Regions from separate parts of the Homo sapiens genome. Here regions 1, 2, 4 and 5 are each reported to be linked to region 3. The links are microRNA targets in miRTarBase. Many come from high-throughput screens and were not tested one by one. Region 3 holds a microRNA gene; each other region holds the end of a gene's coding sequence. Distances are between the middles of the regions.
The links. Region 3 holds the annotated microRNA hsa-miR-484 (UCAGGCUCAGUCCCCUCCCGAU, at 3,190-3,211, opposite strand). A microRNA usually pairs through its seed, bases 2 to 8, with sites in the 3' UTR of a target mRNA and lowers its output. Matches are read on the target gene's strand: a 7mer-m8 pairs with bases 2 to 8, a 7mer-A1 pairs with bases 2 to 7 and ends in A, and an 8mer does both.

Region 1: the mRNA of CLEC16A is a reported target of hsa-miR-484. Seed matches in the 3' UTR shown: 7mer-m8 at 2,321-2,327.
Region 2: miRTarBase lists MCM5 as a target of hsa-miR-484. The part of its 3' UTR that is shown has no 7-base or 8-base seed match.
Region 4: miRTarBase lists RNF19B as a target of hsa-miR-484. The part of its 3' UTR that is shown has no 7-base or 8-base seed match.
Region 5: the mRNA of HADHA is a reported target of hsa-miR-484. The part of its 3' UTR that is shown has no 7-base or 8-base seed match.

Annotation. Positions count from the first base shown.
Region 1 is chr16:11,176,039-11,182,434 of GRCh38, reverse strand. CLEC16A (C-type lectin domain containing 16A) reads right to left here. Exons shown (of 24, transcript NM_015226.3): 24 at 249-4,100. The coding sequence ends at 3,745. Among named protein-coding and RNA genes, the nearest start is that of SOCS1, 77 kb to the left of the region's middle. RefSeq lists enhancers at 1-811, 1,568-1,727.
Region 2 is chr22:35,423,930-35,426,929 of GRCh38, reverse strand. It overlaps MCM5 (minichromosome maintenance complex component 5), which reads right to left. Exons shown (of 17, transcript NM_006739.4): 17 at 1,499-2,776. The coding sequence ends at 2,675. Among named protein-coding and RNA genes, the nearest start is that of MCM5, 25 kb to the right of the region's middle. RefSeq lists enhancers at 1-74, 75-582, 583-1,088.
Region 3 is chr16:15,640,116-15,646,511 of GRCh38, reverse strand. MIR484 (microRNA 484) reads right to left here and starts at 3,218; the gene lies at 3,140-3,218. MARF1 (meiosis regulator and mRNA stability factor 1) reads left to right here and starts at 3,358. Exons shown (of 27, transcript NM_014647.4): 1 at 3,358-3,494. It also overlaps a transcript of NDE1 not described here.
Region 4 is chr1:32,931,947-32,938,342 of GRCh38, reverse strand. RNF19B (ring finger protein 19B) reads left to right here. Exons shown (of 9, transcript NM_001300826.2): 9 at 1,084-1,894. The coding sequence ends at 1,537. Among named protein-coding and RNA genes, the nearest start is that of RNF19B, 30 kb to the left of the region's middle. RefSeq lists an enhancer at 3,961-4,255 and a silencer at 3,961-4,255.
Region 5 is chr2:26,186,871-26,193,266 of GRCh38, reverse strand. It overlaps HADHA (hydroxyacyl-CoA dehydrogenase trifunctional multienzyme complex subunit alpha), which reads left to right. Exons shown (of 20, transcript NM_000182.5): 18 at 843-957; 19 at 1,639-1,784; 20 at 1,872-2,632. The coding sequence ends at 2,017. It overlaps GAREM2 (GRB2 associated regulator of MAPK1 subtype 2), which reads right to left. Exons shown (of 6, transcript NM_001168241.2): 6 at 3,604-6,036. The coding sequence ends at 5,010. Among named protein-coding and RNA genes, the nearest start is that of GAREM2, 17 kb to the right of the region's middle.

The DNA of each region.
Region 1 (6,396 bases), 4.5 Mb from region 3:
CGGGGACATTTCCTGATGGTGCCAACTGCCCCTTAGCAGTTATTCCCGGGTTGTATGAGCCCCGACAACCTCTTAGGAACCTGGGGATGGGAGGGAACCTGGTGCGGGGAGGAGGGAGAGGGAGGGGCTCCAGCCACCACACCCCTGCCAAGCAGCTGCGCCGGGATGAGGGGTCATTGGCTGGGAACCTTCCCCTGTGCCAGGCCACGGCCTCCTGCCACAGCCCCCAGGAGCAGCACGCTACATTCTTGGTAACTTTTTTTCTCTTTTATTGCCAAGTTTAAATTTACAAGGAAGTTCCAGTTTTCATTTCCACCCTCGTGTTCAGTACCCACGAAGCATGAGTCATGCTGGCGAAAGCAGGTACTTCCCTAGAGCGGTCCCGAGGCTCAGAGGCATCGAGGTTTTCTAACCCTCGGTTCTCACTGGGACAAAAATTATTTACATATTTTTAGCTCAAGGAAACATAAGGAACTCGTACAGTGTAGGCCCAATGTCAAGATGACTACATTAAATGCTTCAGATTTATTTATTGCATCTAGACAAGAAGATCAAAATCAGTTCACCCCACGCCTTTTTAAAAAACGGTGCATCTCAGAGACCTTAGAGGAATCTAGCGCGTCTGGCAGGGCTGCGCTTCTTCACCTGCCCCTTAGGTTGCTTGTGAACGCAAGTGTCTGGGTTGTGGGAGGCTGCCAAGGCTCCGGGAGAGGGACTGGGCTGGGACAGCGGCAGAGGAGGGGCTGCTCACGGAGGCCCCTCCTCCCAATCCCACGCGATGGTGAAGGCTGGCCCTTCCTGCCTGGGGGAGCGCCTCAGCTGGCCCCATCTGACCTGCTGGGACAGGTACCTTGCACGTCCAGAAAGGGACGAGCACACCTCCACAACAATATTCAAAGCCAAGGTTTGGGAGTTCCTGCGGCCAGCCCTGCTCCCTGACTTGGCAAACCCAGCCGGAGGTGCACAGGGGAAGGGTGGACCAGGGCCTGGGCCATAACTCTAAGTGCTCTCTGCAGGGACTTGGGGGGCGGGCCGGATGGGTCTGTGGGGGCTGACCTCAGACCTCTGAGGCTATGACCTGAGTGTCAGAAGCCACAGCCCCCACTGTGGGCCTTCCCACACTCCTGGCTCTTCCTCTGGATGCCAGGGGCCCAGCGTGTCCTGTCTGGACTGGCCTGTCTGGGAGCGCCCCAGCTATGAGGTTTGACGGGAGCTCCTGAAGACATAGCTGTGCCCACTGCCGCTGAGACCTGGGTGAGGTGGGGTCCTTTGAAGCCAAAATGGCTGGTGGCCTCCAATGGGCTGGCTCCCAGACCTCCTTACATAAGCAAAGCTTCTGGGAGCCCTGGTTATAGGAAATCCTCACCCCACACACCTGGAGGTGTCCCCCAGACGCAAGTTGCCAGCCCCAGCTGAAAGAGGCCCCTGAGAGTGACCCTGCAAGCCCACATGGGGACTGCCCTTTTCTTGGCCAGGGATGCAGGGTAGAAGCCCTGCCCTGAGCAGTGTCTTTTATCCTCCGCTGGTCCTCCCAGTCACCTTTAATCCTCTGCTGGTCCTCCCGGGCATGCTGTCCAGCCCTGACCAAGACCTCTCTCCTTCAGTGCTCAGTGGTTACAAGACCAGTTGGAGCCCAGAGACTTCTGACAGCAGGCTGGTGGCCCACCCGTGTGGCATGGAGTGAGCTGCAGGCTGTTCCTCCTGGTCACGCCTTGGGGTGGGGCAGCCACTTGCCTTCTCTAGTTTCTGCTGCCCCACAGACAGAGTCATTTCAAAACCAGAAGTGCATGTCTCAGGGGCTAGCCATCTCCAGCCAGGGCCAGCTTGATCCTCTCTACCCCTCTTGCTCTTAAAAAATTAAGCAACACACAGGCTGCCTGCTGGGTGTGGCGTGTCCCGTCTCCTGATGCTGTGGTCCTTCTCTCCATGATGGTCTTCCCCCCGCTCCACCCTGCCTTCCTTCTCTTCCAGGGATTCTGCAGATGGCCACGGTGGTCGTGGTTTGTCCTTCCTTTGGGTTTCTGCCCATGTGGCCCCCTTTCTGAGCTGTGCGTTTTCTCTATGGAAGCAAAGGTCCTTGTACCTGCAGCCATGAAGGCTGGGTGGGCACAGCTACCCAGAGGGCTTCTAAGGACTGAGGCCTGTCCCCATGGGCGCCACTCCCCCTCCTTGGCAGGACTGTGTTTCCTTCATGAGGTTGAAAACTGCCCTCGGCAGGCCTTGCCGGGACAGCTGGCTGGGCCGAGGAGACAGAGACCATGTTCTTCTAAAATGCAGGTGGCAAAAGATCTCAGCGCGGCTCCCGAGACTACCCTATGGCCAGGCTCCGGCGGATACCTAATGCCCCTGGTGGGCACATCTGCTGGCAGGTCTGGAGGAAAGTTGTGGAAGGTCTCACCAGTGACCAGAGAGGTGAGGGGCCGCTGGCCCTGGTGGACTTGGGGAGGGTGGATCACGGCCTGGGCTGTGAGTGCTGTGTCTGGCTCCCGAGCTGGCCGAGTAGAAAGGAACATCTTGGGGGCTGTGTCTGATGCATCTGGGTCCTTGCTTGTACACACCCAGTCCGAATGGGGAAGGGAACCATGGGGTTTCCATATTCAGATCAGCAGCAGTAGCAGAGGGAGAGTGACAGACTCAGAGCTCTGGGGACACCATGCCCTTGCAGCTGGAGGGGAACTGGCTCTGGGCCATCTCTCGGCACATGTGGGCACACACAGTCGAGGGCAGGTGACGTAGAGGGTGTCTTCCTTTGATTTCCATCATGGCCACAGGGTCGGGAGTCTTCACGGTCCCAACTGGTTCCTTCTTAGAGATGGTAACACTGAAGAAGGTGCTGGAAGCTGTCTCTGTTTGGTTTTGGTGAAGAGAAATGAGGAAGCGTCCTGAGTGGGGAGCTGGCTACATTCCTCCTTTTCCTGGAGAAATCTTTCCATGATGGGAGGCCTCTCGGCTGCTATAGCAGAAAACCATTCAGCCCTCTCAGCTCTGTGTGTACCTGAGAATACATGTATCTCCCTTGTTTTTGTTTAAAAAATAATCCAAACTTTCCAGGAAGGTACTTCATTATTCCACAGGCTTGCAGAGTTAGTGAGTAACAAAGAATCACTTAAATAAATGGAAAAAGCCACACTAAGAACTCTGAAACAAAATATCAGGAAAGGTCCAGTGAAAATGATCATGAAATCTTAACTGTTATTATTACACTTTTCACATGACATCAAACCTTAGTGTTGATGTTTTTGGACTTCTTTTAAATAGAAGTTTTAAAAATAAATGTTCACCTGCTGCCAAAAGCGGAAATAAATATCCAAAGGAGATGTTTATCTAAGTCTGCTTTTCTACAAATTTCTACGTACAGTGACCTGGTCCAATTCTTCTGTGCACACTGGGGCTGGTGACAGAGGAGCCATATGACAGAGGAAGAAAGAGGTGCCGGTGGGTCCTGCCACCCGGGGCTCAGAGACACGGAGCCCAGGCAGCTCCCTGAGTGGCCGGTGCAGTCATCTGCATTCGCCGCGGTGTCTCCGCTGGTCCCAGCCTGCACGTGAAGAGATGCAAAGTGAAAAAGGAATTCAAGGACAACGTGGGGCTTCTTCCCATTCAAGGGAGCGCAGGGATAGGTGGTTGAGATGGCTGCTGGGGGCCGCACAGAATGGTGGGTGCTCCCAGTGTGTCTTGCCAGTCAGCGGCACTGGGGTCCCTACCAGCGGGGCCACACACACAAAGGGAGGCCCCGGCACTGACTCAGTCCTCAGCGGTGCCCACAGGCTCAGCACATGCAGCCTCTTCGCCCACGGGCTCTGTGCAGGCGGCAGCCGGCGTGGACAGCGGGGGCATGCCGGTGAGGCTGCGGAGGCTGTGGGGGTCAACTGGGGGGACAAGGGTCAGCGATTCGACGCTCAGCGTGTCAGCCGTGTCCTCGCAGAGCAGGGAAATGGTGGGCTGCCGGGCAGGGACGAGGCTGGGGGACAGGCTGGCTGTCTCCACGGCTGCGCTCCTGGCCACGTTCTTGCTGGGCTTAGAGTCTGCTTCCGTTTCGTTGACGATTACCAACTGGTCAGGAAGGTGAGGCTTAGGCAGTTCTGGACTCATGGGGGCATCTGGATTGGGGGAGAAAAACCGGAAACACACTGAGCCCTTGAGACACCCCGTCGCACTGCGCCCTGTGCTCCCATCCTGAACCGCGGCCCTGGTGAGCTAGGTGGGAGGTGGCTGGCTGGCGTGAGGGCTCAGCGTGGCTCCACTCACTCCTTTTGGGGACACAGAACCTGCAAAATCCAGTCTGACTTAGGCCTGGGGAAAATACAGCAGGGCCTAGGGTTACCCTGACTTGTGATATGAGGGGAAAATTCAGGGCCTGTGCAAAATCAGCATGTGGCTTATGAAAGCACAGTTCCTGGGTGCAGAGACCCAGCTGACAGGCTTTATGTGTGGGCAAATCTCAGGCCTGCCTGATGATAAATACTTGTTTGGGAAGTAAATGGGCTTGGGTGTGCTCGTAATATCAGGCCATTTCCAGAGTATACATTTGATGACATTTACCCAAGAGGGAACCCACTGCAATATTAAAAAAAAAAAAAAAGGAAATTCTGTAGAACTTTTCAGCTTGCAAAACCAAAACAAAACCTTGGCCTGTCTCCTCCTCCTCCTCCTCAAAGTGCTGAGCCAGCACCCACCAAGGGGCTGCTGTGGTTCCTCAGGCCATTATTGTCCCGAGCTTCCCGGCAGGGGCCACTGAGAAACCACGCCAGGACAAGGCAGGTGAGGTTCCACCCAACGCAGTTATTCTTGGAGCAGCAATTTCTTTCCTTGGTGCTTTTTTTTTTTTTTTTCTTTTGGCGGAGTCTCACTCTGTTGCCCAGGCTGGAGTGCAGTGGCATGATCTTGGCTCTCTGCAACTTCCACCTCCCGGGGTCAAGTGATTCTCGTGCCTCAGCCTCCCGAGTAGCTGTGATTACAGGCATCTGCCACCACATCCGGCTAATTTTTGTATTTTTGTAGAGATGAGGTTTCACCATGTTGGCCAGGCTGGTTTCAAACTCCTGACCTCAAGTGATCCGCCCGCCTCGGCCTCCCAAAGTGCTGGGATTACAGGCATGAGCCACCGTGCCCGGCCCTTTTCAAAATCCTACAGACACATGCTGGCCCATTTGCCTTCCAGTGATGAGCCTGCCTGAACAGAAACACCAGATGCAGCTGGAATTCATTGTGGAAAACATCTTCCAGCACTTCAGATGCCGGGTGTTTAAAAACATTGAGAAGAAGACAGTGGGCATCCTGCTTGGAGGCAAATTCTCATTTGCACAGAGCTGGGGGTCCCCAAGCCATGGCGGGAGGTGCTGACGATGCTATATCGAGCTAAGAGTCTGACAGCAGCCTGGGACCCGGGAAGCATGGTAGAATTTTTTTTTGTTCAACGTGATTCCAGTTTAGTTTTTTATTTTCTCTTTTAAGTCAGGCCAAAATAAAACAGAAGAGCAAATGGAACATAAAGCAAAATAATGGAAAAACAAAGAACGAAATAAAAGCAGGCAGCATATAGAAAGGGAAGAGGGAGAGGAAGAGAGCTCCCATCACGGAGCGAAAGCACGAGAGACAGACTGGATTTCAAAGCACACACCGGCATTTCTCCCCACAAGACTCTGGGCAAGATGAACTCTAAAAGGTCACAATTCATTTCATTTCTTTTGTTTTTTTGAGACAGGGTCTCACTCTGTCACCCAGGCTGGAGTGCAGTGGCATGATCATAGCTCACTGCAGCCTCAACCTTCTGGACTCAAGTGATCCTCCTGCTTCGGCCTCCTGAGTAGCTGGGACTACAGGCCCGTGTCACCACACCTGGCTAATTTTTAAAGTTTTTTGTAGAGACGGGGTCTCATTACGTTGCCCAGGCTGGTATGGAACTCCTGGGCTCAAGCAATCCTTCTGCTTTGGCCTCTTAAAGTGCTGGGATGTGCACAGGTGTGAACCACCGTGCCCAGCCCAATTAATTTCTTCCTAATGTCTTTTTTAAAAGAGAGAGAGAGAGAGAGAGATCTAGAGGAAACCACTGCATGAGGCTTTGGTCCTCGCTCTGGGAGGGTGGCAATGGGCATCGGTGAACACTAGTGGAAAAAGTGATTTGAGGTGTGATCTGAGCCCAGAAATGCTGAGTAAACACTACATGCGAATTCTGGTTTCTTTGAATTTCAACTGATTTGCTCCATTCAGTAAGGATGGCTTGCGGTGCTGGGCTGGTTTCAGCTCAGGCGTGCGCCCTGACCTAGCACGATCTGCCTGCTGTTCCTCAGAACCTGTGGTTCCCTGAGCAGTGCTCACCTGCTCTGGTGGCCTCTGCCCTTGCTTCGAATGGGCATGAGCAGACCTGTGACAAACTCACACACATGTGGATCCACA
Region 2 (3,000 bases), not on the chromosome of region 3:
CCTTCCCAGACCTGGAACTGGAGAAGGGGTGGAGCGGCTCTCATAGTGGTGAGCGAAGTTGAGAGACCCATGCAGCCAGGAGTAGAGTGGGGCAGGGAACACAGCAGCAGAGGCTCGGCCTCTGCTCACACAAAAGCATGAAAAGGTGAAATCCGAGATGGCAGAGGCTGTGAGGCAGGGAAAACCACAGGCACCCAGCCCTTCCTGGGAGCACCTCCCCGGGGCCAGGCCCAGCTGCTCTGATGTCTACCCCCTCAGTTAATCCTCACAGCCACCCCTGGGTGAAAGGGCTACTGTACTGCTGTGCCCTTTCTACAGATGAAAGGAGGCTGAGGGGTGAAGTGATTTGCTCAGCAGAGAGAAATGTCCGCTGGGTCGCGGCCTGTAGCTGGTGAGGGTAGGGACAGATCTGAGAAGACAAGCCTAAGGGAGCCAGGTCACAGGTGAGTGAAGAGCTCAGCCACCCTGAGTGGCAGCACCAGCTCGGGAATCCAGCTCCCCCCCTTGCCCCACCTCCCTGCCTCTCTAGGTGTCACTGAGGCCTGACTGGAGATTCCACTAAGCCGAGCCCCAACTATTACTCAGCCTGAATGCTCCCCTCTCCTGGCCTCCCTTCAGGCTCTCTCCTCAGCCTTTGCTTTCCCCAACAAGCAGGTGTTTCCCTGGCTCAGGGGCCTCTCTTCATGCTGCTGCCCCGATCTGGAAGGAGACTGGCATGCTCTGAGCACAGCTGCTCCTCCTATGAGCCCTACCCCAACTACCACGGAAAAGCCAGTCGGACCCCCTTTGGCCTCTCAGTCCTGTGCCTGCCAGTCAGGCCACCTACCCCTGGGAACCTACCCCAGGGTCAGTCTCCCCCACCTGACTGGCACCTGCCTCCCCCAGGCCAGGACTGTCTCTGCCCAGCATCCCACTCAGGCCGAGGTCAGGGACTGCCAAGAGAGAATCTGGCAGAAAAGGTGACATGGGTGGAGTTCGGAGCCACCAGGTTTGAAGCCTGCCCTGCACTCCCTCACTGTGACACTTGACTCTCTGAGCCTCAGTTTCTCCACCTGTAAAACAGAGGTGACCACAGCAGCACCACCCACCACAGGGGTGGAGAAAAGGCCACCAGCAAAGTTGCCACTGCAGGGTGAACCTCATGAGAGTTCCACACTCCATGAACAAGCAGGACGGGAGGACCTTGGGCCTGAGATGCACGCGAGTCCCCACCTGAGCAAGATGAAAGGCTAGCAGGAACCGGAGATGCAGCCTTGGATGCAAAACCCACAGCGCGCCCAGTAAGGTTGCCACCCCACCAAGAAAACAAAAGCTGTTCCAGACACTCTCAAAATTATCAGAAAAGAAATGAGCTTTGAACGGGAGTGAGTCAGAGGAAAGCTGATTTAGCTCCTCTCATCTCTCCATTTCCCCGAACAGTATGGAATCAGAAAGGGCTTTGAGCTGCAGGAATCTTCTGCACAAAAATACATTTGTGATTCAACAATGACCAGGCGGATGCACCAAGCTTTCTTGTATTTTTAGAAAAATCAAATAATCTTACTTCAAGTTCGTGTCATTTTTACATGGCAATTACTTTTAAATACCTTATCTAATGTTCCATAGATTTCCAAATTCACGTTTTGCTTGACACTTTGTATTTCTAAATGTATTTTAAATATCAAATATTTTATTTCACTGATTTCTATTTAATTTTATGAATCCTAGCTTTTTTAAAAACACAAAACATACCAACTCAGAGTGACTTTCTGAAATTAGGCAAAGTGACCGAGGCACTTGGCAACACTCCTTCCTCCAGCATCACTGTCACTAGTGCCTTCTGTCATTCAATCCTCACAACTCAGGGTGAGGAATCCCCCCATCTCCAGTTTACTGATAAACTCAGGCACAGAAAAGTGAAATGTCTCGCCCAAGGCCACACAGTTACACGTGGCCCACCAGGAAAGAACTGGCTGGAGTCCTAGTTCCTGCCTGGTGGCCACTACATTCCCCTCACTAACAGCTGCTCACTGACCCTAAGCACAACCCTGTGAAGCAGGTTCTAGTATCAGCCTGCTTACAGATAAGGAAACTAAGGCATGGAGAGGGTCCATGAATCCAGGCAGTCTGACCGCCGCACCACGGCTCGCAGCCCCCCAATAAGTTACTGGGGAACAGGTGAGGCGGATCAAAATCACACACTTTGAGAAGCGCTTCCCCACTCCCTGGTCTCACTGGATTCCCAGCATCAAGGGAGTGGCTTTATGAGCCCCGCTAAACAGATGAAGAAACCGGAGCACTCAAGTCACGTGACTTACCCAGAAGTCTGAGTGGCAGATCCAAGTCAGAAACCCTGGCCAGTCTGCCTCCAGACCCTGTTCCCTCACACTTACCCTGCCATGAGGGCACGATGGAGGTGACAGGTCACCGAGTGCACAAACCCACAGATACCTGAACACACCGTGGCTTTATTATTAACGGATGCCAAAAGCACACTTCCCAGAACCGCGCTAGAGGCGGGCGCCCAGAGGCAGCAGGACACTACAGCTCCTTCCTCTGGGGCAGAAAGGAGGGTGCCTGGGAAGTTCGAGGGCTGCAGTGGGGAGGCAGAGGTCCCAGCAACATTGTCAATGGCAGGCAGCGGCAGGAGGGGCGAGGCGTGGGCGAGTCCATGAGTCCAGTGAGGCGGCGCGACTCACTTGAGGCGGTAGAGAACCTTGCGCTGCATGCGATGCTGGATCTCGCCGCGCCGCAGCATGAGCTGCAGCACCTTGTGGATGGCGTGCTCCGGGTATTTCTGTGGGAGCACATGGCTGGCTAACGGCACGTGCTGCCCGAGGGGACTCCGACAGAGCCCAGACATCCCCAGGCTCACGGGGAACTTTGTACTCAGGCTCCTTTGACCTAAAGGGCCCACACTTCCTGAGTGCCCACTGTGTACCAGACACTGAGGCACACGGAGGCTAAGCCACTTGCTCAAGGTCACAGCAATTAAGAGGTAGAGCTGGGACTTAAGTCCCA
Region 3 (6,396 bases):
CCTCCTGGGTTCAAGCGATTCTCCTGCCTCAGATTCCTGAGTAGCTGGGATTTCAGGTGTGCACCACCACGTCCAGCTAATTTTGTAGTTTTAGTAGACACAGGGTTTCACCATGTTGGTTTGGCCAGGCTGGTCTCGAACTCCTGACCTCAAGTGATCCACCTGCCTCGGCCTCCCAAAGTGCTGGGATTACAGGCGTGAGCCACTGCGCCTGGCCCCCCTCGGAATTTTATTTGGCCCTAACCACTCTGTGACGTTTCTGGACAGGAACTAATCACCTCAGCTTACAGAGAAACCGAAGCACAAACTGATGAGGTACTGGTGTTGCCTAAATGGCTTTGATCAAGGTATTTAAACTAGTTGGTTCTCAATTTCCCAAATTTTCCATAAAGAAAAAAGAGAGGGCATTGAAATAATAATCCTTAAAGTCCTATTTGGGAACAACATTTAGGGAAATAGGTTTGTCATTGGGTAAAACCTTAAAAACATTTAAAATGTTTTTCTTGTTCTTTTTAAATTCAATTTGTTTTCCTTGTAGCTTTGGACTATGGCTGAGCAGATAACTCAATTTAACTTCCTTAGGTCCTTCCATGATCATTTATTAATTCAAACCACTGAACCTAATACAGGTAGAAGATTGGTTTCTGGGGAGAAACTCCTTTAATAACAGCTTGGTTAGTTGAAAAGCTGAATTGCATGTAAAGTAGCTACTTAAATAGCACACAAAAAAGTCTTTCGGTTTTCATACATGTGAAGACTATAATTTGGACAAGGGAAAAACTGAAAGTTACTTGTACTCTCTAAAGTTTTCCCAGCAAAGAAACAGGAATACAATTAATAGAGGATACATACTTAAAATATATCTTAAGAGAAAATTTATGTATTTTGATTCATAATTGTCTCCTAAGGCCTGGTATACTTTGCTTAGGCTCCTAGTCTTTAGAAAGCAGCAATAAAATTACATTTCTTTTAAAAGTATTTGTAATTCAGACTTTTATTAGCCTTCCACTTAATACGACTGTTTTGTTTTTAAAAATTTTTTTAATAGAGACAAGTGTCACACCATGTTGCTCAGGCTGGTTTTAAACACCAAGCCTCAAGGGGTCCTCCTGTCTCAGCCTCCCAAAGTGCTGGGATTACGACATGAGTCACCATGCCCCGCCCATTTTCAATCACTACATTTACTTGTTGTGACTAGTTACAGCTTTGGACTTGAAAGAATGCCAAGCTAAGTCAAACAAAATGTGTCTGCTTGGTAAAAAGGAATCTAAAAGAAAAATATACATATAAAGAAAATGTGGTCAAGCTCGTTGGCTCAGCCCTGTAATCCTAAAGAGGCCGAGGCGGGAGGATCACTTGAGGCTAGGAGTTCGAGACCAGCCTGGCCAACATGGCAATATCCCGTCTCTACTAAAAACACAAAAATTAGCCAGGCATGGTGGTGGGCGCCTGTAATCCTAGCTACTCAGGAGGCTGAGGCATGAGAATCGGTTGAACCCGGGAGGTGGAGGCTGCAGTGAGCCAAGATCCTGCCACTGCACTCCAGCCTGGGCAATGAAGCAAGACTTTGTCTCAAAAAAAAAAAAAAAAAAAGTAAAAAGGAAATGTGTCTGCATTCTTTGATGTTTTCTGGCTAAAAACTATTTTTTAAAAAAAGCAATTAGAAACCTACAATTACCTTGTTTCTTAAGATTTTTAGTTAATATGGCTTGTGTTGAAACATACTCAACTGAAATAAAATGGGGAAAAAACACCTCTGAAGAGTAGCGTATTTGTTTGGTACTTTGAAAAAAGCCAAAACGCTAGAAACGGGTTTTTCATCTATTCTAATCTCCACTTGGAAAATACTACCTATACACAGACATAATGAAGATTTTTTTCTTTTTCTTTCTTTTCTAAATAGTGATAGGGTTTCACCGTTTCCCAGTCTAGTCTCAAATTTGTAGGCTCAAGAGATCCTCCCTCCGTAGCCTCTCAAAGTATTGGGAATACAGGCCTGAGCCACTGCGCCCAGCCCACAGTCAAGATTTAGTCAGCAGTAATAAATACCTACGCAGGGAGAGGATGTGTGCTTGTCATCTGCCTTCTGGAAAATTAAATACAGGCACAAAGGATTCTTCAGCTACATGTCTGATCCTGCCCTCCACAATACCCGTCTACAGGGATGTTTACAGGGATGTGTTAATCCCCACGTAATGGGGATTGCCTATTGAAATAACCTCCCAGTAAGGATTTTTTTGGGCAAAATATTCTCGTTTGGCAATTTCGACTTACTGATTCTTTTGCAAAGTCAACTTGTTTCTGGGCAAACTTTAAAAATAAACTCCTAAGGTAGCATTTAGCTAGCAGCTAGCACATCCTAAATCGTGTCTAGATTTAACTTACACAATATGTGCTTTGCTTTTTTCCTAATTTGCAACAGAAAATAGTAATCAGCTGGTAGTTTCAGAAATCACCCTTTTGCTGAGTCTTAAATTTTTTTTTATTCCAGGGAAACGTGAAGATTGTGGGGCGCTATTTTTTTTTTTAAAGCAAACCACACAGCATATCTGGCCACCTAAAACACAAAGTGTTTGAAACTAACCGTAAGATTTCCTTTCTGCTCGCCCAACCTGTCACTGGAAACGCAGTATTCATTTGTAACCAGCTTTGGAGCAGGGCTTTTAAAAATAACGTTTTCTTGCTAAAGTCCCCAAAAATCTCTTGATTCTTGGTGGCAATGTCCAGTTGAGTCTTTGCACACACTGTATTTTTGCCAACTGGGTCGCAACTTTGCGAGAACTCCGGGGGACCTCGTAGGAAGCCAGGTTGGCAGTTATTTTTTTCTCCACTTGCCACTAGGTTGCACTAGATTTAGGATGCTGGGGAATATGCGCCATTTAATTTTTAAAAATAAAGTAGGACCATCACGTGACGAGACCCGAGAGAGGAAAAAAAAAAAGCCGAAGGGACAGGGTTTTTCATTGAAATCCCGTTCAAATCGCCTTCCCTCCAAAGCCTGAAAGAGCTGAATTCTATTAAATCCTGGTTGGCAGGTTTTTTCCTCGGGTCCACGTCACGAGCTCATTCTCCGCTTCAAGGTTCCTTTCGACTCCACAACGTGAAGCCAGGGGGAAGGCCTCCTTAAACTGGGGGTTTTCGCCAAAAAAGCCAGGGTCACCCCCCGGGAAAGTCCCTATTTAGGGGTTTATCGGGAGGGGACTGAGCCTGACGAGGCTGCAGGGCCGCGAGGCCCCGCCCCCCCCGGGGTTCCCAGCATGCCCCGCGCGGACAGGACGCGGCGGCGGAGGCGGGGCGAGGAAGGGGCGGGGCGAAGAGGAGAGAAGGGCGTCGGTTTTGCGACAGGGGCGGTGCGGTGCGGAAGCGGAAGTGAAGGGTGCGCTTGGCGGCGGCGGCGGGAGCTGCGGAGTCGGGAATCAAAACAAAGGGCCTGGGGGGGGCGGGGGGAAGGCGGCGGGGCCGGAATGTGAGCGGAGGTGGAGCCGGCGGCAGAGGTGAGTTTGCAGACAGTCCTGCGACCAGACCCCGGCAGGCTCTGCTCCGAGGCCAGCGGGGCGGGACGGAGGACAGTGTCCCCTCTTTCCCCGCCTATTGCTGGTGGGATGGTGGTGGAGAGGGGAGGTTAGCTAACTGGGACGCGCCAGTTGGGCCCCCCACGAAAGAGTTGGCTTGTCTCCCTTTCGGGTCCATTCACTACTGTCACTGTTGGCGCCGCTGTTCCCCTTCGAGGGCATTTGGCTCCCCGCCCGCCCCTGTCTGACCCCTGGTGGGGCCCTCCAGGAGTGAAGTGCACAGCTGGAAGGTTAAGAGAGAAGGAAAGGGGCGGGTGTTTTTGCAACACACTCCCCCCTCCCCGGCCGTTTTGCATTCTCCTCGGCCTTTTAGCAACACATAGGGTGTAGTCTCAGGGTTGACAATGTCTAGGGCTTCAGCCACTCTCACTAGTAGTTGTAACGCGACCTCGTGATACACCTTTTAGAGTTTCTCAAGCACCTTTCCGGTATTACCAAGAGCTGTCCAATTGCATTTGTGTCTTTTGGACTTCTCTGAGCGGTAAATATTCTTCTCTTTTGCATATCGGTGTATTGAAACCTAAACTGTTTTCCTATTTATTAAGCTTTATTCGTTCAACAGTTATTTATTAAAATATGCCAGGCATTGTACTAAGGACAGGAGTTGGAATAGTGGATAAGAAAACATAGTCTCTGCTGTCATGGAGTTTATAGCCTAATGGGGGAGAAAGATAATAAAATAAGCTAAAAAGGCCGTTTTGGACAGAAGAGCTATGGGGGAGAAAACGGTAATGGGATGGGGTGGTGTGGGGTCAAAGACTAGATTGGGTGCTAAGGAAACAACATTTGCTAAATGTTCCCCGTGGATTACCTCATGTAATCCAAACAACGGCCTTGTAAGGTGGTTTCTATTATTATCACACCCATTTTAGAGATGGGATCTGAGGTTCAGAGAGGTTGTGAGTTGTCCAAAGCTGCACCGCAGTCAAATTGGAGACCAAAATGCAGACAGTCGACAGAGCCTATGCTCTCCTCATTGAATTGGTCAAAAGACTTGAAGAGAGTGACAGAAAGGAGACTGTCGCTCAAGTCAAACAGAACCTGCTTTTGGCTACCTAAGTTGCTTCGTGGATGGTATTTGGGAAGTTTTCAGGGTGCAGGCACCTGAAAGTTTTTACTTTTAATCGCTTGTATTGAGCAGTATTGAAGGCACCTTGATGTAGTGGAAAGGGGTGAACAAGCCTAATCTTGTGTCAGGCTCGCTACAAAACTTCATTAAGTTTCTTTTTCTCTCTCTGCAAAAATGTAGCTAATTTCTCCCCTGTCTATTTCACAGGATTATTGCAAAAATTATATAAGAGGATCCCACCGTCTGGGTTTTTTTCATCATTATATTCCTTGTGCCAAGCACAGGCCTGCTGCATAGTAGATACTAAGTAAATATTTGCTGAATGAAGACATAAGTAATGTTAAGTGAAAATACTTTATAAACTAGATTATACTGTGAATGTTAGCTCACTTTCAGGATTTGGCTTTGAAGAAGTTTGAGAGAATGTTTAAGTTATGAACACTGTGAATATCACAGATTCTTACGATTTTGAGAGGAGTTTTTTGGGGGACATAAAACCTGTATCTAATAGGAAAGACAAGAATCGTAATTTACTATCAGTGGTAGCAGTTAAATCCATCTCCAAATTAACCACTCCCAATAGTGTGTAGTAGGTAATGTTTACTTTGTATTTACAGAGTAGGGAGCATTTTGGTTGGCACAAGAGATACAGTGGTGAAAATAGACAGTGGGGTTCATTTATCTAATTTTTTTTTTCTCTGTAATGCAGTGGCGGGGAGAAATTAGCCACATTTTGCATAGGAGGAAACAGAAACTTGAAAACAAAAATTTTTTTAGAGATGGAATCTCACTCTGTTGCCCACGCTGAAGGGCCAGTGGCACAATATAGTTCACTGTAGCCTCAAATTCTTGGGCTCAAGAGATCCTCCTACCTCAGTCTCTCTAGTAGCTGGGACTAGGCGCATGCTGCCACACTATGCTAATTTTTTGAACTTTATTTTATTTTAGAGCTGTGATCTTGCTATATTGCCCAGGCTGACAAAAGAGCCACGTAGTAAATATAGGCTTTGTGGGCCATACAGTCTCTTTGCAGAGACTCTCTTTGCAACTCTGCAATTGGAATGCAAAAGCAGTCATAGGCAGTATTTAAGTGAATGAGTGTGTCTGTGTCCCAATTAAACTTTATTTATGGACACTGACATTTTAATTTCATGTAATTTTGTTTGTTGGTTTTTGAGACAGGGTCTCACTCCGTCGCCCAGGCTGCAGTGCAGTGGTGCAATCACAGCTCACTGCAGCCTTGACTACGCAGTCTTAGGTGATTCTTCCACCATAGCCTCCTGAGTAGATGGGGCTACAGGCATGCACCACCACGCTCAGCTAATTTTTTGTAGCCATGGGGTTTTGCCATGTTGCCCAGGCTGGTTGGGAACTCCTGGGCTCAAGCAATCCACCCACCTTGGCCTCCCAAAGTGCTGGGATTGCAGGCCTGAGCCACGGTGCCTCGCTTGCATTTATTGTTAAGACCTGTAAGAGTGTTGTTGCTCTGGCGTAGATATAACACATCTGCGACTTGAGATTTTTCTATCAGTTAGATTTTTGGTGGTATATCAGATTGCACTTTCATCATTAGTAAACTAAGAAATTGGTTCAATTTGTTCTGTAGCAAATCAAATTCAAAGTCCACAGAGGCCACTTAGTTTGGACTTTTCATGCTCAGATCAAGAAACCAGTGCAAGAAGTTGCTCTTAAGTCAATTTTAAAATCTTACATATAGTTGTCAATGAGGATGTGGTGGTGGCTCTTTTACTCAGA
Region 4 (6,396 bases), not on the chromosome of region 3:
GTCTTCAGAAGTTCAATGCCTCATGTTAGGGCTGTATGTACCATCTCCTGGGATATATAGTGTAACCTGTGAATTCATTTGAGCAAGTTCTTGGTACTTGAGTGTTTGGCATCTCTTGATTCTTCTTGTTAGCGCTTGATTTTTAGAGATTTCTTTTCTTTCTTCCTTTTATGTATTTTTTCTTTTTTTTTTTTTTTTTTTTGTCTTTCTTGGCTATTGCAACAGTGTATAATTACATGGAACTTAAAGAGCTAGATTGATGTTCATTGATGTCTTCAAGTCTAGGGTTTCTGCTTGCCCTTTGCTTGATAGGATTCCCATAGCTTCTTTCTCTTTCATTTTGAGAAACTGGTGTATCTGGGATGGTGTGATTGTGGTACTCCCACTAGTAGGTATTCTGGCTTCTTCTACTTGTGGCATGGTAGTAAAAAGCTTTTACTTTTCTATTTTGAGTAAGCTAGCATGGGGCTCTGACCCTTAGTTGAATTTTGGAAGCTCTTTCTGTATGTTTAAAGAGATTGGCTGAGATACACGTGTGTGTGCATCTGAGCACACGTGTGCATGTATAGTTAAATCAGCAAAAAGGATCTAATTACTCTTCTCCATCTCATTTATTTTTATTTTTGTTTTTTTAGAGACAGGGTCTTGCTCTGTCAACCAGGCTGGAGTGCAGTGACACAATCATAACTCACTGCAGCCTTGAACTCCTGGGTTCAAGTGATCTTCCCATCTCAGCCTCCCGAGTAGCTGGGACTACAGGCACGTGCCTCCATGCCCAGCTAATTTTTTTTATTTTAGAAACAGGGTCTGACTTTGTTGCCCTGGCTGGTCTCAAACTCCTGGACTCAGGCAGTCCTCACACCTCGACCTCCCAAAGCGCTGGGGTTATAGGCATGAGCCACCACGTCCAGCCTCCATCTCATTTGAGTGTTAGATTAAAATGTTATTTTTGTTAAAAGTGAGCTCTAGTTAACTGTTCACCTATCTTTTTGAAATTCCTAATCCTGAACCCATGAACTGCTTTTACCAACAGGTTTAGCATGATCCATGCATGACTCAGCAAAGTGGATTTTGTCTCCACAGAGAATGCAACAATATGGAAATCCAAGTGGACATTGAAGCCAAACCAAGCCACTATCAGCTGGTGAGTGGAAGCAGCACGGAGGACTCGCTCCATGTTCATGCTCAGATGGCAGAGAATGAAGAAGAAGGTAGTGGTGGCGGAGGCAGTGAAGAGGATCCCCCCTGCAGACACCAAAGCTGTGAACAGAAAGACTGCCTGGCCAGCAAACCTTGGGACATCAGCCTGGCCCAGCCTGAAAGCATCCGCAGTGACCTAGAGAGTTCTGATGCACAGTCAGACGATGTGCCAGACATCACCTCAGATGAGTGTGGCTCCCCCCGCTCCCATACTGCAGCCTGCCCCTCGACCCCCAGAGCCCAAGGTGCACCGAGCCCAAGTGCCCATATGAACCTCTCTGCCCTAGCCGAGGGACAAACTGTCTTGAAGCCAGAAGGTGGAGAAGCCAGAGTATGAAGTGGAATGAATGCTCCTGTTCTGAGAAGCACACTTGTAACTGCATCTTTTGGAATTTTTTTTTTTTTTTTTCCAAGGGGTAGAGATTTATGTATTTTATTTCACAGATTCTCTGGTCACAGGTTTTTGCCCAGGGAAATTCTGAGAAATTCACAATTTCTTACCAGATAAAACATGAAAAGTTTGCCGTTAGTTCCCCTCCCCTCCCCTCCCTCTTTTTAGTTTTAATTTATTGGTTAAACTGATGGCAGCAATCCATGAGGTGTGTCAAAGAGTGTACATATGTATGTGTGTATATTGAATGCTAAACATATTACTGAAAGACACATTTTAATAAAGATTTCTGTCATAATTCAACTTACCTCATTTTCCTTGGCTTGGATAGTCCCACAGAGCCAAGTGTTTGAAACAAAGCACCATCTTTGACAGTCTCTAGACCTGAATTTTTCTAATCCAAGGGAAGAAGGATTGTATTCAAATCCAACCGCAGTAGTCATCTATAAACCTATGACTCCTAGCATGACAGGAAGCAAAGCTAGGCTTGTTTTGGACTTTGTAGTCAGGCTGAAGAATTATTAGCTGAGTCAGCTGAATAGGGAAGCAGTAGATTAAAACTAACTTTGTTTGCCCTCTAGAAGCAACTGTGCAATTTACTCTTAAAACTTTGCCCTTTTCTGCATTATAGTCACTAGTAGTCATATGCTTCAGAGGAGAGAAGGAGTGGCAGTCCCAGGTAGCTCTTAAGAGAATTCTCAGTGGTCAGGCATGGTGGCTCACGCCTGTAATCCCAGCACTTTGGGAGGCCGAGGCAGGTGGATCATTTGAGGCCAGCTGTTTGAGACCCACCTGGCCAACATGGTGAAACCACGCCTCTATTAAAAGTACAAAAATTAGCCAGGCGGTAGTTGCGCACGCCTGTAATCCCAGCTACTCAGGGGGCTGTGGCAGGAGAAGCGCTTGAGCCTGGGGAGGCAGAGGTTGCAGGGAGCCGACATCACTGCAACTCCAGACTGGGTGGCAGAGACCCTGTCTCAAAAAAAAAAGAGTTCTCAGTGAATGTTGCATGGTTACAAGTTGGAGAACAGAATATTCTGTTATTGGAGGAAGAAATACACTGATGCGCATAATCACAAAGCAATGACATAGGTGTTTGCTGTGTTCTCAGGTATACCACTCCGTGTTCTGATAAACTTTCTCAGTTTTGCTAATCTGGTTTAAATAAAAGGGACTAAAATCTGAGATTTGTAATGAAAGGAGGGGGTATGCCCTCAAAATCTCTGAACATATTTATCTGATCTTACAAATTTGTCAAAATTGAGCTAAGTTTGTACTACTTGGAGTTTTGCCTCTGTGTAAAATAATGTCCTGGCCGGGCACAGTGGCTCACGCCTGTAATCCCAGCACTTTGGGAGGCTGAGGCAGGTGGATCACCTGAGGTCAGGAGTTCGAGACCAGCCTGGCCAACATGGTGAAACCCCCGTTTCTACTAAAAATACAGAAGTTAGCCAGGCCTGGTGGCATGTGTCTGTAATTCCAGCTACTCGGGAGGCTGAGGCAGGAGAATCGCTTGAACCTGGGAGGTGCTGGTTGCAGTGAGCTGACATCACCCACTGCACTGCAGCCTGGGAGGCAGAGGGAGACTCCATCTCAAAAATAAAATAAAAAATAAAATAATGGGCTGGGCGCAGTGGTTCACACCTGCAATCCCAGCACTTTGGGAGGCCAAGGCGGGTGAATCACGAGGTCAGGAGATCAAGACCATCCTGGCCAACATGGTGAAACCCCGTCTCTACTAAAAATACAAAAATTAGCTGGGCGTGGTGGCGCACACCTGTAGTCCAGCTACTCGGGAGGCTGAGGCAGGAGAATCACTTGAACTCGGGAGGCGGATGTTGCAGTGAGCCGAGATCGCGCCTTTGCACTCCAGCCTGGGTGACAGAGTGAGACTCCGTCTGACAAAATAAAATAATGTCCTTAGAAGTGAAAGCTTATATACAGTATAGCAAGAAAATTAGAAGACTCGTGAAACCTGATGTCAGATTCCAAATCTTAGAGTGACTTACTTTGTATGAGTCAGTTTCATGCCCCTAACTTCCCCAACTTTCAGATCTTATTTATGTATTTAGAGACGGAGTCTGGCTCTGTCCCCCAGACTGGAGTGCAGTGGCATGATTTTGGCACACTGCAACCTCAGCCTCCCGGGTTCAAGTGATTCTCAAGTCTCAGACTCCCAAGTAGCTGGGATTACAGGTGCATGCCACCACACCCGGCTAATTTTTGTATTTTTAGTAGAGATGGGGTTTTGCCATTTTGGCCAGGCTGGTCTAGAACTCCTGACTCAAGTGATTCCCCCCACCTCAGCCTCCTAAAGTGCTGGGATTACAGGCATGAGCCACCTCGCCCGGCCCTCAGATTGCATTTAAAGAGCTTCCAGTGTCAGACCTCTCTCACCTTAGTCCTGGGCCCAGAGGAAAAATTGAAATCCTCCTTTCCCTGAAGACCAGATGACTTTCTGTTTCCTTTCACAGATGCACTTTTGTCTTCCTGGCCAGTGTTTTACTACAATGAGGATGGCAAGTCTGGACAACAGCCAGCTTAGAAGATTCTTATCTCTTGGGCACTGCAGCCAGACTTCACACATTTCCCTGCACCTAGGACAGGAAATGCTGTTAGTGGACTTTGGATTTCTGGAAGAATGTTCCCTGAAGGGGGCGTGTACTTGTGTGAAAAAGAGAACTTGTTGGAAAAAGAGGCAGACAGCCTGGAGATCTCTGAAACGCAAATTATCAACTCAAAACTTGGAATTCTCTTGAAGCCTCGAGAGAACAATTCACTTCTTTGATAAAATCAAAGAAGTCTGTTGGAGGGGCAGTAGTTTATGGCTAAACCTATATTTCTTATCTGGGTTCCACTTACTACAGCTGTGAGATTTGGGCAGTTTACTCTGAGTCTGTTTTCACTTAGCCAAAATGGAGATGATGATCCTAGTTAAGGGGTTGTGAAGACTGAGATGGTATACTGAAAATGTTTTTGGTAAAGGCCCATGTTTTTTCCTCCTGCAGGAAGAAGAAGAAATGAGTTAAAGGAGATTTTAGATATCATATAAGAAAGGAAGCCTAGACCTCTAGGCCAGAGGCTATGAAAAATTTAAATTTATTCTAATCCTTAGCGACACTTTAGTAGATGAAAAGGCCCATCATCACCACCTAGAGGCGAACACAAATAATGCATTAGAAAAGTTACAATAGCTTGGCCGGGCGTGGTGGCTCATGCCTGTAATCCCAGCACTTTGGGAGGCTGAGGCGGGCGGCTCACAAGGTCGGGAGATCGAGACCATCCTGGCTAACACGGGTGAAACCCCGTCTCTACTAAAAATACACAAAATTAGCCGGGCGTAGTGGTGGGCGCCTGTAGTCCCAGCAACTCGAGAGGCTGAGGCAGGAGAATGGCGTGAACCCGGGAGGCAAAGCTTGCAGTGAGCTGAGATTGCGCCACTGCACTCCAGCCTGGGCAACAGAGCGAGACTCCGTCTCACAAAAAAAAAAAAATAATAATAATAGCTTAGAAAATGGAGAAAGTTTAATTTCCTCTTCATACAGCCTTCATTCATTCTGAAATACCTACCGCATTTCAGGTATAAGATGTAGCAATGACTAAAATACAAAGTTCCTGTCCCCATGGAACTTAGACTCTTAACGGGGGAAGGCAATCAGATATATAACCTGGAGTGAGGATAAGTAATCTGTGAAGAAAAACAGGGAAGACAGAGTGGTAGATAGTGCTACTTGACATGACCAGGTTGGTCCTCCTTGATAAGGTTCCATTTTATTAGAGACTTTAATGGAGCAAGGAAGAGAACTATGTGAATATCTAGGGGAAGCACATACCAGACATGAGGAATAAACTACAAAGGCCCTTTGGTAGAGCATCCTTAGTCTGTTTCCAAAAAAGCATAGTATAGAGGCCTATATGGCTGGAACAAAGTGGACCAAGGTGGGGAGAGTAGTGGATTAGGTCAAAGACAGCTGGAGCAAGATTGTGTAGATTAGCCAAACAACTCTGAAGACAAGGAAATTTTAGATTTCTTTGGGCCAGGAGGAGGTAATCTTCAGCGCCAGACAGATGCAGTGCTTGCGGCCAGCTTTCAAAAAGGTTGAAACTGGGAGGGGCATGTCTGATCACTAGTACTACTTGGACAGGCCAATGTGAAGAAGCTTGTGGATATGGTAAATGAATACTCATTTATGCTCACCTAATGTACCTTCGTATGCTGCAGAGGCTGGAAAACTAAAAACTTCATGTCTTAGATTTCCTTGAAACCAAGGTTCTGAATGTAACCTAAGGTCAAGTTTTGCCAGTTAGATGCACAAACAAGATGTGGAAGGAGGAGTGATTCAGGGGTTATCTTTAGCTACTTTGGCTATTGCTCCTGCAAGATGTAGAGACCTTAGGTTTCTCTTTAACTGCATTCTAATAGCCATCAGTAGCTTTGTGGGTGTTGAAGGGTGTCTGGATCCATAGATAGCAGTTTGCGATATGTTTTCTTGTAGTCAACCTGTAGTGGCCTCCTAATTGCTCATCTCCCCTATGGTGGCAGAGGTAGCAGCTCACATGGAAGGCTAATTCCAGGTCTGGGAATCGCCTGGAGGCCCAGCCTATGGCCATGTTCCCCAGGCTTTCCAGTGCTTTTGTAAGCACCTAATTTACCTGTGTTGAATCCTTTTCCACTTAAAATTGGTAGAGGAGTATTGTTTCCTGCAGTTACTGAATCCTGGCTAATATAGTATTTGGTTCCAAAAGTGGTTACTAGTAACAGGCCCTCAAAGATGGGCTTCTTAGATTAGTTATGACTAAGCTGC
Region 5 (6,396 bases), not on the chromosome of region 3:
GGACTATAGATTATGGACAAAAGGCAGAGTTCTACCCTTCTGGGGCTCTAGCATCACCTGGTCCAAGTTATGCCAGATGGACAAGCATTTTTATCCCCCAGAGATGAAATCTGCAATAGTGCAGAAGCAAGCTCTGCATCCGGGCTTTACCATGCTGTCTGGCCACCTGTGAGGAGAATGTATAAGCTCACCATACACAGTATACAGTTGAGGCCCACAGAGAAGTGACTTTCTGTCTTGGCAAAACAGCAAAATCAGCATTACAACCTGGGTGTTCTAGGACCCGGTGCTGCATATGGGGATGTTAAAACTCACCCAGGTGGCCTTTCTCATCCATGTACACAGATGCCCAAGCTCCGGGTCACAAGATCTTCTTTCCTTCTCTGCCCACTCTTCTGACAAAGACTAATTTGCTAGGGTTAGCTAGACATACAAATTCAGGAATTCAGAAGAGGCCAGAGCTTTATAATAGACCAACAGAGACAAGAATTCTCAGGTCAGGGTCTTTTTTGTTTGTTTTTTGTTTTTTTTTGAGACAGAGTCTCACACTGTTGCCCAGGCTGGAGTGCAGTGGCATAATCTCGTCTCCACCTCCCGGGTTCAAGCGATCCTCCTGCTTCGCCCAGCTAATTTTTGTATTTTTAGTAGAGATGGGGTTTCACCATGTTGGCCAGGCTGGTCTCAAACTCCTGACCTCAAATGATCCTCCGCCTCGGCCTCCCAAAGTGCTGGGATTACAGGCGTGAGCCACCACGCCTGGCCAGGCCAGGGTTCTGAGAACAAATAGTAACACTCCCTCCCTGAGAACAAATAGTAACACTCCCTTTTCTTGCCTGTTTTAGGTCGTAAATCTGGGAAGGGCTTTTACATCTATCAGGAGGGTGTGAAGAGGAAGGATTTGAATTCTGACATGGATAGTATTTTAGCGAGTCTGAAGCTGCCTCCTAAGTCTGAAGTGTAAGTCCGTTTGAGTGGCTAATGCCTGGAAATTGACTTTCTCTGACAGCCCAAAGCTTCCCAGCCCCTCTTCCATTTTTTTTTTTTTTTAATACTTTAAGTCCTGGGATACATGTGCAGGTTTGTTACATAGGTATACACGTGCCATGGTGCTGTCTTCCATTTTCTTTGTGACCACCATACCTGAACAGGAGGACCACTCCTGATGCTGGCATGGTGCTTTCCAAGTGGAAGGCCCTCGCACGTGCTCCTTGGTCTCTGCCCAGCATCTAGGTGAGAACCAGGCCACGTCTGGTGAAGGCCCTCCCCTGCTCCAGCCTTCTCTGGCAAGTTCCCAGAGAGCCGCTGGAAGGACAGATTCTCCTTGGCCCCTTCACCCTCCCAGATCTTTATTATCATTTGTGAGCAGCTGACTGTTGCTGATGTCAAAGAGATACTGATTATCTTCTCGGCACCAGGCCCTGTTCTAGGTGCTCAGTTTCATGTTAATTAGGGCAAGTTACTCTCCACTTTTTCCATGGGAAAGTTTGGTTCACCCAGGCAGCATCTTCTCTGAGGGCCAGCACCAACCGGCCCACAGAGCTCCCCATGCACCCATCCCGACTTCCATTCTGCATCTGCGGCTCTGGCTTTCCTCCCCTTTTCCTCTTCTTCTACCTAAACATCTCTTTCTGTTGGCAGCTCATCAGACGAAGACATCCAGTTCCGCCTGGTGACAAGATTTGTGAATGAGGCAGTCATGTGCCTGCAAGAGGGGATCTTGGCCACACCTGCAGAGGGAGACATCGGAGCCGTCTTTGGGCTTGGCTTCCCGCCTTGTCTGGGAGGTTGGTCTCGCAGGTTGGGAAGGAAGCTCACTTTAGCCTGGAGCCCGTGTTGCGTCTCCTTCAACGAAGTCCTCTTTCTCTATTCAGGGCCTTTCCGCTTTGTGGATCTGTATGGCGCCCAGAAGATAGTGGACCGGCTCAAGAAATATGAAGCTGCCTATGGAAAACAGTTCACCCCATGCCAGCTGCTAGCTGACCATGCTAACAGCCCTAACAAGAAGTTCTACCAGTGAGCAGGCCTCATGCCTCGCTCAGTCAGTGCACTAACCCCAGCTGCCGGCAGTGCTGGTTCTCCAACAGAGTGGTGTCTAGATTTATCAGAGTAACGAGAAGACAAACTCCGGCACTGGGTTTGCTCCCTGATTAAAGTGCCTTCAGCCAAGACCATCTCTCCCTCCTGGTGAAGTGTGACTTCGAATTAGTTTGCACTTCCTGTTGGAAGGTAGAGCCCACTGCTCATTGTATAAGCCCCGAGGCCTAGAGTGGCAGCCAAGAGCCATCTGAAGCCACCTCTCTGCCTGTTCCTCCCAAGAGGCCAGGGTGGCCAGGGGTGGTGAGGGCAGTTCTGCACCCAGCCAAACACATAACAATAAAAACCAAACTCTGTGTCAGCATCTTTGCCCTTCTGGTTTAAACGCCTCCTTCAAAAAGCAATCTGGAAGAAAGCCCTGTGCTTTGGGGGAGTAAGAATGTGTGTGCAGAATTCTAGGCAGCACCTTAGGGAGGGACTGGGATGAGAGAAAGTGGGACCTGGTGGGCTCAACCACACACACCTGTCTGTGCAGATGCTTTGCCCAGGCTTCTCACCACGGTGTACCGGGATATTAAACCTCTTTCCCCAGCCTGGATTTCCTCATTGTGTGATCTTACCCATTTCTTTTCTGGGTGTGCCTCATTCATAGGTGCTTCTTGGGATGGTTGTGGGAACGTTGGTGCTAAGCAGAGGCGCTGACATCTCCCTTGATGTTCGGAGATCCTGCATAGCAGGGCTGCCCCAGAAATGCCTGTGCGGTAATCAGGCAGCACGGGAGCAGCATGAGGAGTGCTGACCCCCACAGCACCTGCACTCCCCCAAAGCTTCAGCCCCTCCCCACCCCACCCCCTGGGATGGAAAGTTCCTACAGAAGCAGTGCCCAGTCTGGGTAAACAGCACTGGGGCTAACTGGGTCTGGCAGAAGGATCCACGCTGAGTGTGTGCGGAATCGTAATTCCAGTCCCATCACATTCTGCATTCTAAATTGTCAGATATTACCAGTTACTCCTGCCTCTGCTCCAGTTGTACTTCAAATATGTCCCTGGTCCCAGCTCTGTAGCTGGGACTGGCAGGCAAGGAGATCAGGTCTGGCTCTGCTTGGTCACTAGGAAGCCAGACTCTAAAACCAAGTCACCTCTGAGTTGAGGTTTTCAGATGACCAGAGTAGGGAGCTGATCCCTTGCACCAAAGCCATTAACCGGTTTCCAAATTTGGTCTGAGAGAGCCTGAAGCCGGCATTCTGCCAATGCAGGAAGCTAAGCTTGGGCCCTGGCTGGTGGCATTCAGCTTTGAGCCTGGGTCTTTCCCTTCAGTAACACCAGGTAGGTGTGAATTATGTTGAAACTAGTGGAAGCTGGGGTGGGGGTTCTTGAAGGGTAGGGAGGGGCTGGCGAGGGCCCTGCAGAAGGGAATGAAGGCTGCCACCAGCCGCCTCCACAGACATGGGAATGGCCACACACCCACATCATTCCTCCATCAGTCCTCTCCTGCCAGAAGGCATATACACTGTGCCCATGGGTCCCCATGGCCTTGTTTTCAAAAGAAGAAAGCAGCTGGCACCCAGAATGCCACTTGTACTCATCTTCAGCAGTCTAGCATTTATTTCATTAGTCCTTGAGGATTCATTAAATGATCTGCAAGAAAACCAAATGTCCCCACATCACAGGTTCTGTGCTCTACTCTCTGACCACTTCTCTGAGCTGAGGCAGCCTGCTTGGAGTATGGGCACCAGCATGGCTTAGCTACTTTTAAGATAAAAAGTGGAGGAAATAAATAGGTAGACTAGGTAAGGCAGAAGAGAAGGCTGGCACTTTGGGCCCTGACACTAGTGGGCACCCTGTGGTTCTGGGTGAGATGGAGGACACGGATGGGGTGGGGTGTGTGGTTGGACACAATGACCAGAGCTCTGGGTACCAAGCAGATCCCCATGTTTGAGATTCAAGGGCACAAAGGCCTGCTGTGAGGCACGTGAACAAATGCAGGACTGAGCTCCAGGAACGCACTCTCCCAACTGTACCCTCCTGTGCCAGTGACAGAAAACCAGGGAAAAACACCAAGTATTGTCAGAGACAAATGATGGGGGCAAGAGATTGGCGGAATTGGAGGTGGTTGACTACCGCTTGCTTCTAGAATCAAGGAGAAGCTGACCTAAATCAACCTGCTCTTCCACGGAATCAGTATTCTGAGACTGAACGCCACCTGACGGATGGATGACTAGCTGCAGTAAAGTCAGAGCAGAAGCCAGGGTGCTAGAGTCATCTGGGCAGTGTCTGGCTTCCTAACTAGATAAGTGGGTCGGGTCAATTGCAGAGCTGTGCTCTTCCAAAGTTGTCACCCATGAACCAGGACCCACAGGTGGAGCCTCTGAGGTGCCATGGGTTAGGCTTGTACACGACTCACCTGTGTGCGGGGCCAGGCCCCACCCCCCTCAACCACGGTGGAGCAGAGGGGGAAGGGAAAGGCATCTCACAGACACAGACATCTACACCCTCACTCTGGGGCAGCTTTAGGCCAAAAGCCAACAGAGCACAAAGGAGAGTGGGCACTTGGGAAATCGGTGCTTAAATTACCAGCCATCTTCTTGTCTCTAAACAGAGCCTACAGGCTTCAGCAGTGGAAGTCGTTTGTGAAGGTCTATAGCAGGGCATGAGGTGGTGTTAGGTCACCCTGAAGGCCAGCTTTTGACCCCGTTGTGGGAATCACGGCAAATGCCTTACTGGGCCCAGGTACACAGTGGTGCCCCCAGCCCCTTCCCCATGTACTCTGCACACTCAAAGGCAAGATGTCCCGTGCAGGGGTCTGACCCCAGAGGACCACATTTCCACATGCATCTCCCCTGGATCCACCCAGTGGCTGCTGAGCAGCCTCAGTCTCGACATAGATCCTTCTTGCAGGCAGCACCTGCTCCTCCGGAGTGCTGTACCTGGGGCCCCCATACCAGCATTCCAGCTGTGCAGCTCCAGCTGGGCAGTTCAGATCTTGGGCCTCCAGCCTTTGATGAACTGCATGATCTTCTTGACCTGCAGCTTGGTGAGGTGGAAGTCATCTGCCAGGATGTCCTCACTGAGCTGCACAAAGATGCTACCATCGATGCGTTCTCGGGCAAAGAAGCTCACCACATCCTCTGAGAGCCCGATGAAACGCAGACTGCGAGAGACCTCCTCCAGGGAGAGTGCAGACAGGTCAGCAGGGGGCTGCCAGGAGGAGGCATCTCGGACTCCAAAGCCTGTGGCTCCATCCCGGGGACTGGCAGGAGGCCCTTCCAGGCGCCCTTGGGTTAGAAAAAGTGCTCCTCCCGCCTCGGGTCCCTGCAGAGCAGCTGGTGACAGTGGGGTGGGGACCTGGTGCAGCACCAAACCTTCAGGCTCAAAGGCCTTGGAGGGGCCAAGTGGTGAAAGGCGGGGTCCAGGCCCAGGTGTCCCCACTGCTCTGGGCTCCTGAGAACGCAGCAGCTCAGGCTCTGGAGAACTGCCCTGCCCCAGCTCAAAGGGATCGAAGGGCTCCAGGACTGGTTCCTGCCATTCAGAAGAAGAGGAGGAGGAGGGGGCGCAGGAGGAGGGGGGAGCAGCTGAATAGGCCTGGCCTGGCGAGGCTGGGCCTGGGGAATACGCAGGGCCAGAGGTAGCCACAGGACCCGAGGTGGTTCTGGGCCCAGAAGACAAGGCCGCTGAAGGGCCTGAGGGGTAGGCAGGCCCGGAAAAAGGGTTGAGAGCTCCAAACGGAGCAAAGCGCTTCTGGGGATGTGAGGGCTTGAATAGAGGAGGGCAGCTGTGGTAGGTCTTAACAGGGGTGTCAGCCCCCAGAAGGGAGGCGGCTCGACCGCTCAGAGGCTCTGTGAGGGCCCGGGAGGCCTGGCTGGGCTGTGTGGTTGAGGGTAGGGGACCGGGGGCTGGGCGGCTAGAGGACTCGCCCACCTTGCAGTCTCCCCAGGTGCATGGGTAGCAATAGAGGGAGTAGGTGTCCGGCGATGGGGAGCCACTGCCACTGCGGGAACCCGCCCTGTGGACAGAGACAGACACACACACATAGGACAGGTGAGGCTGAGAGGGAATCCGATAGGGTCACACATGCATTGCAACCAAGCACCACTATGACCTCAGCAACACGGGCCTGCACCCCAGCCCCAGCCCAAGACCCTCCGGAATGGCCGTGTTCTTCCTTCCAGCATCCCCCAGCCCAGGTCAGAAAACACAGGGGAAAAATGAAACGAAACTGAAATTAATAAAAATATTTTCTTTCAATTTTTTTTCTTTTGAGATGGTGTTCTCGCTCTGTTGCCCAGGCTGGAGTGCAGTGGTGCAATCTTGGCTCACTGCAACCTCCACCTCCCGGGTTCAAGCGATTCTCCTGCCTCAGCTT